Linked DNA regions of Homo sapiens: region 1 is linked to region 2. The links come from fine-mapping of genetic effects on gene expression. A gene starts in region 2. The other region holds a variant in brackets. All regions are shown on one strand. Distances are between the middles of the regions. Region 1 overlaps GSR (glutathione-disulfide reductase). Region 2 holds the start of UBXN8 (UBX domain protein 8).

What was found. PIP is the estimated chance that this variant, and not a neighbour inherited with it, causes the effect. A credible set is the group of variants that fine-mapping cannot tell apart.
Region 1: its variant is the best candidate, but not a certain one, in a credible set for the expression of UBXN8 in cerebellum (GTEx, PIP 0.87).

What each region holds. Positions count from the first base shown.
Region 1 is chr8:30,717,159-30,720,068 of GRCh38, forward strand. The region is part of intron 1 of GSR (glutathione-disulfide reductase); the gene reads right to left. Among named protein-coding and RNA genes, the nearest start is that of GSR, 9.2 kb to the right of the region's middle. The variant G/C (reference allele first, on the strand shown) is at 1,199.
Region 2 is chr8:30,742,767-30,745,676 of GRCh38, forward strand. It overlaps UBXN8 (UBX domain protein 8), which reads left to right and starts at 1,398. Exons shown (of 8, transcript NM_005671.4): 1 at 1,398-1,511. The coding sequence starts at 1,424. It overlaps LOC105379356 (a long non-coding RNA gene), which reads left to right. Exons shown (of 2, transcript XR_005646967.2): 2 at 945-1,306. It overlaps LOC105379355 (a long non-coding RNA gene), which reads right to left and starts at 911. Exons shown (of 2, transcript XR_949634.2): 1 at 1-911. RefSeq lists enhancers at 907-1,046, 1,081-2,049, 1,287-1,366.

The sequences.
Region 1 (2,910 bases), 26 kb before region 2:
CCCAGGAGGTGGAGGTTGCCGTGAGCGGAGATCGTGCCATTGCACTCCAGCCTGGGCAACAAGAGCGAAACTCTATCTCAAAAGAAAAAGGAAACAAACAAACAAACACATTAGAGACAGGGTCTTACTATGTTGCGCAGGCTGGTCTCAAAATGCTGGGCTGAAGCAGTCCTCTCACGTTAGCCTCCCAAAAGTTGGAATTACAAGCATGAGCCACCGCACTCAGCCTTCTTTCCCCTTTCTCTAGCTCAGGGCTCCCTGACCGCCAGGTGCCTATTAGGAACCAGGCTGCAGCAGGAGGTGAGTGGCGGGCAAGTGAGCGAAGCTTCATATGTATTTATAGCTGCTCCCCGTCGCTAGCATTACTGCCTGAGCTCCACCCACTTCCTTTCAGATCAGTGGCGGCATTAGATTCTCATAGGAGCGTGAACCCTATTGTGAACTGTGCATGCAAGGGATGTAGGTTGCACACTCCTTATGAGAATCTAATTGCTGATGATCTGTCACTGTCTCCCATCAGCCCCAGATGGGACCAACTAGTTGCAGGAAAACAAGCTCAGGGCTCCGTCGGAGTCTAGTTTATGGTGAGTTGCATAATTATTTCATTATATATTACAACATAATAATAATAGAAATAAAGTGCACAATAAATGTGATGCAGGCTGGGCGTGGTGCCGCAAGCCTGTAATTGCAGCACTTTGGGAGGCCGAGGCGGGCAATTACCTGAGGTCAGGAGTTCAAGACCAGCCTGGCCAACATGGTGAAACCTCCGTCTCTAATAAAAATACAAAAATTAGCCAGGTGTGGTGGTGGGTGCCTGTAATCCCAGCTACTTGGAAGGCTGAGGCAGGAGAATCGCTTGAACCCAGGAGGCAGAGGCTGCAGTGAGCCGAGATCATGCCATTGCACTCCAGCCTGGGCAACAAGAGTGAAATTCTGTCTCAAAAAAATAAAAATAAATAAATAAATAAATAAATAAATAAATGTGATTCACTTGAATCCTGAATCATCCTGAAACCATACCCCACTGCTGGTCCGTGGAAAAATTGTCTTCCACAAAACTGGTTCCTGGTGCCAAAAAGGCTGGGGACTGCTGCTCTAGCTGACCTGTGCATCAGGTTGTTAGAGGGAGCACAGGCCTCAAGTCAGACAGATAGGAGTTTGACTCTCAGCTCTCCCATTTAGTGGCTAGAGGTGG[G/C]TGAGTTTCCAAATTTCTCCTAGCTCAGTTAAGGGAAGAATGCTTCCATTATGGAGATTTTGAGCAGGTCAGAGATAAGGTATATAAAGCATCTATTTCTAATCTATGATAGATGTGATGGTGACTCTGATACCTCTGAATTATTTCTGCGTCTGCTGGCTCCCCACACGCACACAAGGCATACGGAAAGGCGGAGATAAATTCCCCAGGGGCCTTCCTACCTAAAACACATCAGCTGATCACAAAGGAAGTTTGCCTCCCAGACTGGAGCATTATCAGATGAGTTCTCAGGGCTCTGGTTGCCCAGAGTTGCACATTGCTAAGACCCTCAGCATACAACACTGGCAGATTCCCCGGTTCTCCAGGTGGGCATTAATGAGGGATAAGAAACAAGTTTCTTTTTTTCTTTTTGAGACAGAGTCTCACTCTGTCGCCCAGACTGGAGTGTGCAGTGACACAATCTCAGCTCACTGCAACTTCTGCCTCCCAGGTTCCAGTGATTCTTAGCTTCCCGAGTAGCTGAGATTATAGGCACGCACCACTATGCCCTGCTAAGGTGTTTTGTTTTTTTTTTTTGCTTTGTTTTGTTTTGAGATGGAGTCTCACTCTTGTTGCCCAGCTGGAGTCCAGTGGTGCCATCTCGGTTCATCACAACCTCTGCCTCCTGAGTTCAAGCAATTCTCCAGCTTCAGCCTCCCGAGTACCTGGGATTACAGGTGCCCGCCACCACGCCCAGCTAATTTTTAAATTTTTTTTTTTTTTTTTTTTTGAGACGAGGTCTCACTCTGTCATCAGGCTGAAGTGCAGTGGTGCGATCTCGGCTCACTGCAACCTCTGCCTCCTGGGTTCAAGCAATTCTCCTGCCTCAGCCTCCCGAGTAGCTGGGACAACAGGTGTGTACTACCACACCTGGATAAATTTTTTTTTTTTTATGTATTTTTAGTAGAGACGGAGTTTCACCGTGTTAGCCAGGATGGTGTCGATCTACTGACCTCATGATCCGCCCACCTCGGCCTCCCAAAGTGCTGGGATTACTGGCCTGAGCCACCGCGCCTGGCCAATTTTTGAATTTTTAGGAGAGATGGGGTTTCACCATGTTGACCAGGCTGGTCTCAAACTCCTGGCCTCAAGTGATCCACCCACTTCAGCCTCCCAAAGTGCTGGGATAACAGGCGTGAGCCACCACACCCAGCTAAGAAACAAAATTTCACAGGCTGTTCAGTAAATACATCATCAAGGAGACTCCTGTAACTCAGCCTCCCTTTCCAAACCGATGATCCATTCCTGAGAGCTTCCTTTTCCAACCAATCTAGTGTTCAGAACCCCGATCAGTGGGCCTGCTGGCATCAATCTAGTGTTCAGAATCCCGATCAGTGGGCCGCCTGTTATCTGGTGATAACAGGTGGCAAAATTCAGAAGCTTCACCATTTTTCCTAGGGCCTGCCTCGTTACCTTCAATCCTGCCTAGCCAGGTAGAAACTTCACATTGCCCATGTTGGCAGTAAAACAAGAACTTGGTTAATCTGCAATTGCGCCTGCCAAGAACATCAACTGTGTTCAATAGTGAACTTGCGGCTGGGTGTGGTGGCTCACGCTGTAATCCCAAAACTTTGGGAGGTGAGGTGGGAGGACTGCTTGAGCCCACGAGTTAGAGACCGGCCTGAGAAACATAGTAAGGCCTCGTCTCCACAAATAAAAAATTTAAAAATTAG
Region 2 (2,910 bases):
ACTTCCTTTTGGAAAGCCTTTTGCAAGCCTTCTGGGTATGGTTCTGCAACACCCTGTGTATATCTCTATCATAGCACTCAGGAACTGCATTATGTTTATTTGCTTACAGGGCTATCTTTCCCAGTTTTTTTTTTTCTTCTCCATAGAACCACAAAGTCGGATAAGCTGAGTTTCTTGAGGACAAATTCAGTAACTTGTAAATATTTGAATATCCAAGAGTTGTAGAGTACCAAACTGTGGAGCTCAATAAATTTCAGATGAACTAAACTGAATAGTCAGGTGGGATGCTAGATGGATGGGTCAGGAAAAAGAATTTTCTTTTTTCTTGCAAAGTGTTGGGATTACAGGCGTGAGCCACCGCGCTTAGCCAGGAAATATAATTTCTTTCTTTCTTTTTTTTTTTTTTTTGAGACGGGGTCTCATTCTGTCGCCCAGGCTGGAGTGCAGTGGTGCAAACTCGGCTCAAAGCAACCTCCGCATGCGGGTTCAAGCAATTCTCCTGCCTCAGCCTCCCGAATAGCTGGAATTACAGGCGACCGCCACCACACCCGGCTAATTTTTGTATTTTTAGTAGAGACGGGGTTTCACCATATTTGCCAGGCTGGTCTGGAACTCCTGACCTTGTGATCCGCCCGCCTCGGCCTCCCAAAGTGCTGAGATTACAGGCGTGAGCCACCGCGCCTGGCCAGGAAAGATAATTTCCAAGTACGAAATGTTGTAGATTGGGAGGACCTCAGTAGCTTGGGAGAAGTGCACAGTGGTGAGTTATAGGACGGCAATGAGGTCATGGAACTATGAAGTCAAGGTTAACAATAACGCGTGCAGGCAAAACTGAAAAGGGGCGGAACAAGGGGTAGCGGGTCTCCAGGACCTGGCATTAGGACGTGCGTGTTAGGGGGCAGGTATTTGGAGCCAGGCCCCACTTTCGAGTTGTCTTTCCGCAGGAACCAGAGACTGCGGACGGGGCCAGGAACCAGGAACCGTTAGGGAGATAAGGAAGGTGTTATAGCCCACATTCATCCTATACGGCCACAAGGCCGGGGGGCCCAGGCTGCCTCCTCACAGCATCAGCTTTTTCTTCGGCTTCATTTCCCTCTGGAAAGCGCTTTCTCACAGACGCTGCAAAGACCGAAGGGGCAGCCCCTGCCCTGCTACCCTCCAGGGAGCCACCGCTCTAGAGCCCAGGCTCCTCTGGACATCATGTGACTTGGGGGACGACTTGCCTTTCTTCTGAAACACGGCTACAGACTATAACTTTAAAACACGGGGCTTAGCTCCCCCTCAATAACGACACGGCCGTCAGTATTTACCACGTTATTGACCCTCTCCCAGCCGGCCCGCGGCAAGAAGAGTTCCACTTCCTTCCCGGAAAACGCGGCCGGAAGGGGCGGGCTTTCCGCCTGCACCAGGCGCTTCCGCCACCATGGCTTCACGTGGGGTTGTTGGCATTTTCTTCCTCTCTGCTGTCCCCCTTGTGTGTCTGGAGCTCCGGCGTGGGATCCCGGATATAGGTAAGTGTGACTTTTTCCCTTCGACAGTCACAGCTGGGTAATTTTCACAGGAATGTTGCATAGAACGACCGCCTCTTCGGCTGCGTGGCTTCGGAGCAGCTTTGACTACAACTCCCAGACTGCATCGCCCCTGCCCCCCCACTTCCGGAGCTGACTTCACTTCGAGGAACCTTTTCCCTCCAGGTGTGATGGTTTTACGTGTAAGAGGGTAGAGGCAAAGAGCACAGGGGCAATCATAGACAGTGCTTTCGCATCCTGGCGAACACTGAAAAGGAAATAAACAGGTTGATAAGATGAAGGTCTTGTGAGAATTTAGGCTGAGAAGTTTTTTGTTTTGTTTTTAGAGACAGGGTCTCACTATGTTGCCCAGGCTGGTCTCGAACTCCTGGGTTCAAGAGATCCTCCTGCCTCGGCCTCTCAAAGTGCTGGGATTACAGGCCTACGCCACTGCGCCCGGCCCTAGGTTTAAATAAGGGGCCACGCCCGTGAAAAGCCAGTGGGGGCAGGGAAGGGATGGGGGAGGGGAGGAATATTTTAGGCAAAAAGATTGTGACACGTTGGAGGAAAAGGTGAAGGCCATTGTGGCTGAATCAAGGAGAGTTGGGAGGAGGAGGAGGAGGAATTGGCTCAGGATAATGACGTTTATTGAACACCTATTATAAGCCAAACACCAGGTGCTGGTTATTATCTCATTTAATCTGCACTGCAATCAGAGGAGGGTAGGCACTATTATAATCCCCATTTTACAGTTGAGGGAACTAAAATTTAGGGAGGTTAAGTGACTTCCCTAAGTTTTAAAAAGGTCACTCGATTCTGTATGGAGAATGCTTTGGACAGAAGCTATGGTGGAAGCAGTGAGGCACATCAGGCTTTGGAAGTTGACAAGTGGTGATGATGGCCTGGACTAGAACAATAACAGGAGATGAAATGTAGACAGAATTGGGATATTGACGGAGTAGGATCAACCAACAGGCTTTGTTTATGGGTTGATGTTTGGGGCAAGGGAAAGGAAGGATTCAAGGACGACTGCCTCATGGGGGACTGAGCAAACCTAGGTATTTGGTAGTGCTACTGGTAAAGGGGAAATGGAAAGAAAAACTGTGGAGATGCTGAGAATCATGAGTTGATTTTTGGACATTTCAGTGATCAGTTTACATGTCTGTCTCCCTTTTTAAGGTCAATTCTAAAGTTAGAGACCATAATGAAACTTGGCTTTGTGTACTCCCTCTCTTTCTCCACATTTTCTCCCTGCTCACAAGGAGTCAGATGCCTAGAAATGTTGCGTGCAATAAGAAATGAAAATAAAATGCTTTAAAAAAATGTACAAAGACTGTCCTGAAGCTTCTCACTCACTCAAGCTGTGTTGGAATATAACAAGACCTTTATCCAAAGGATCAGA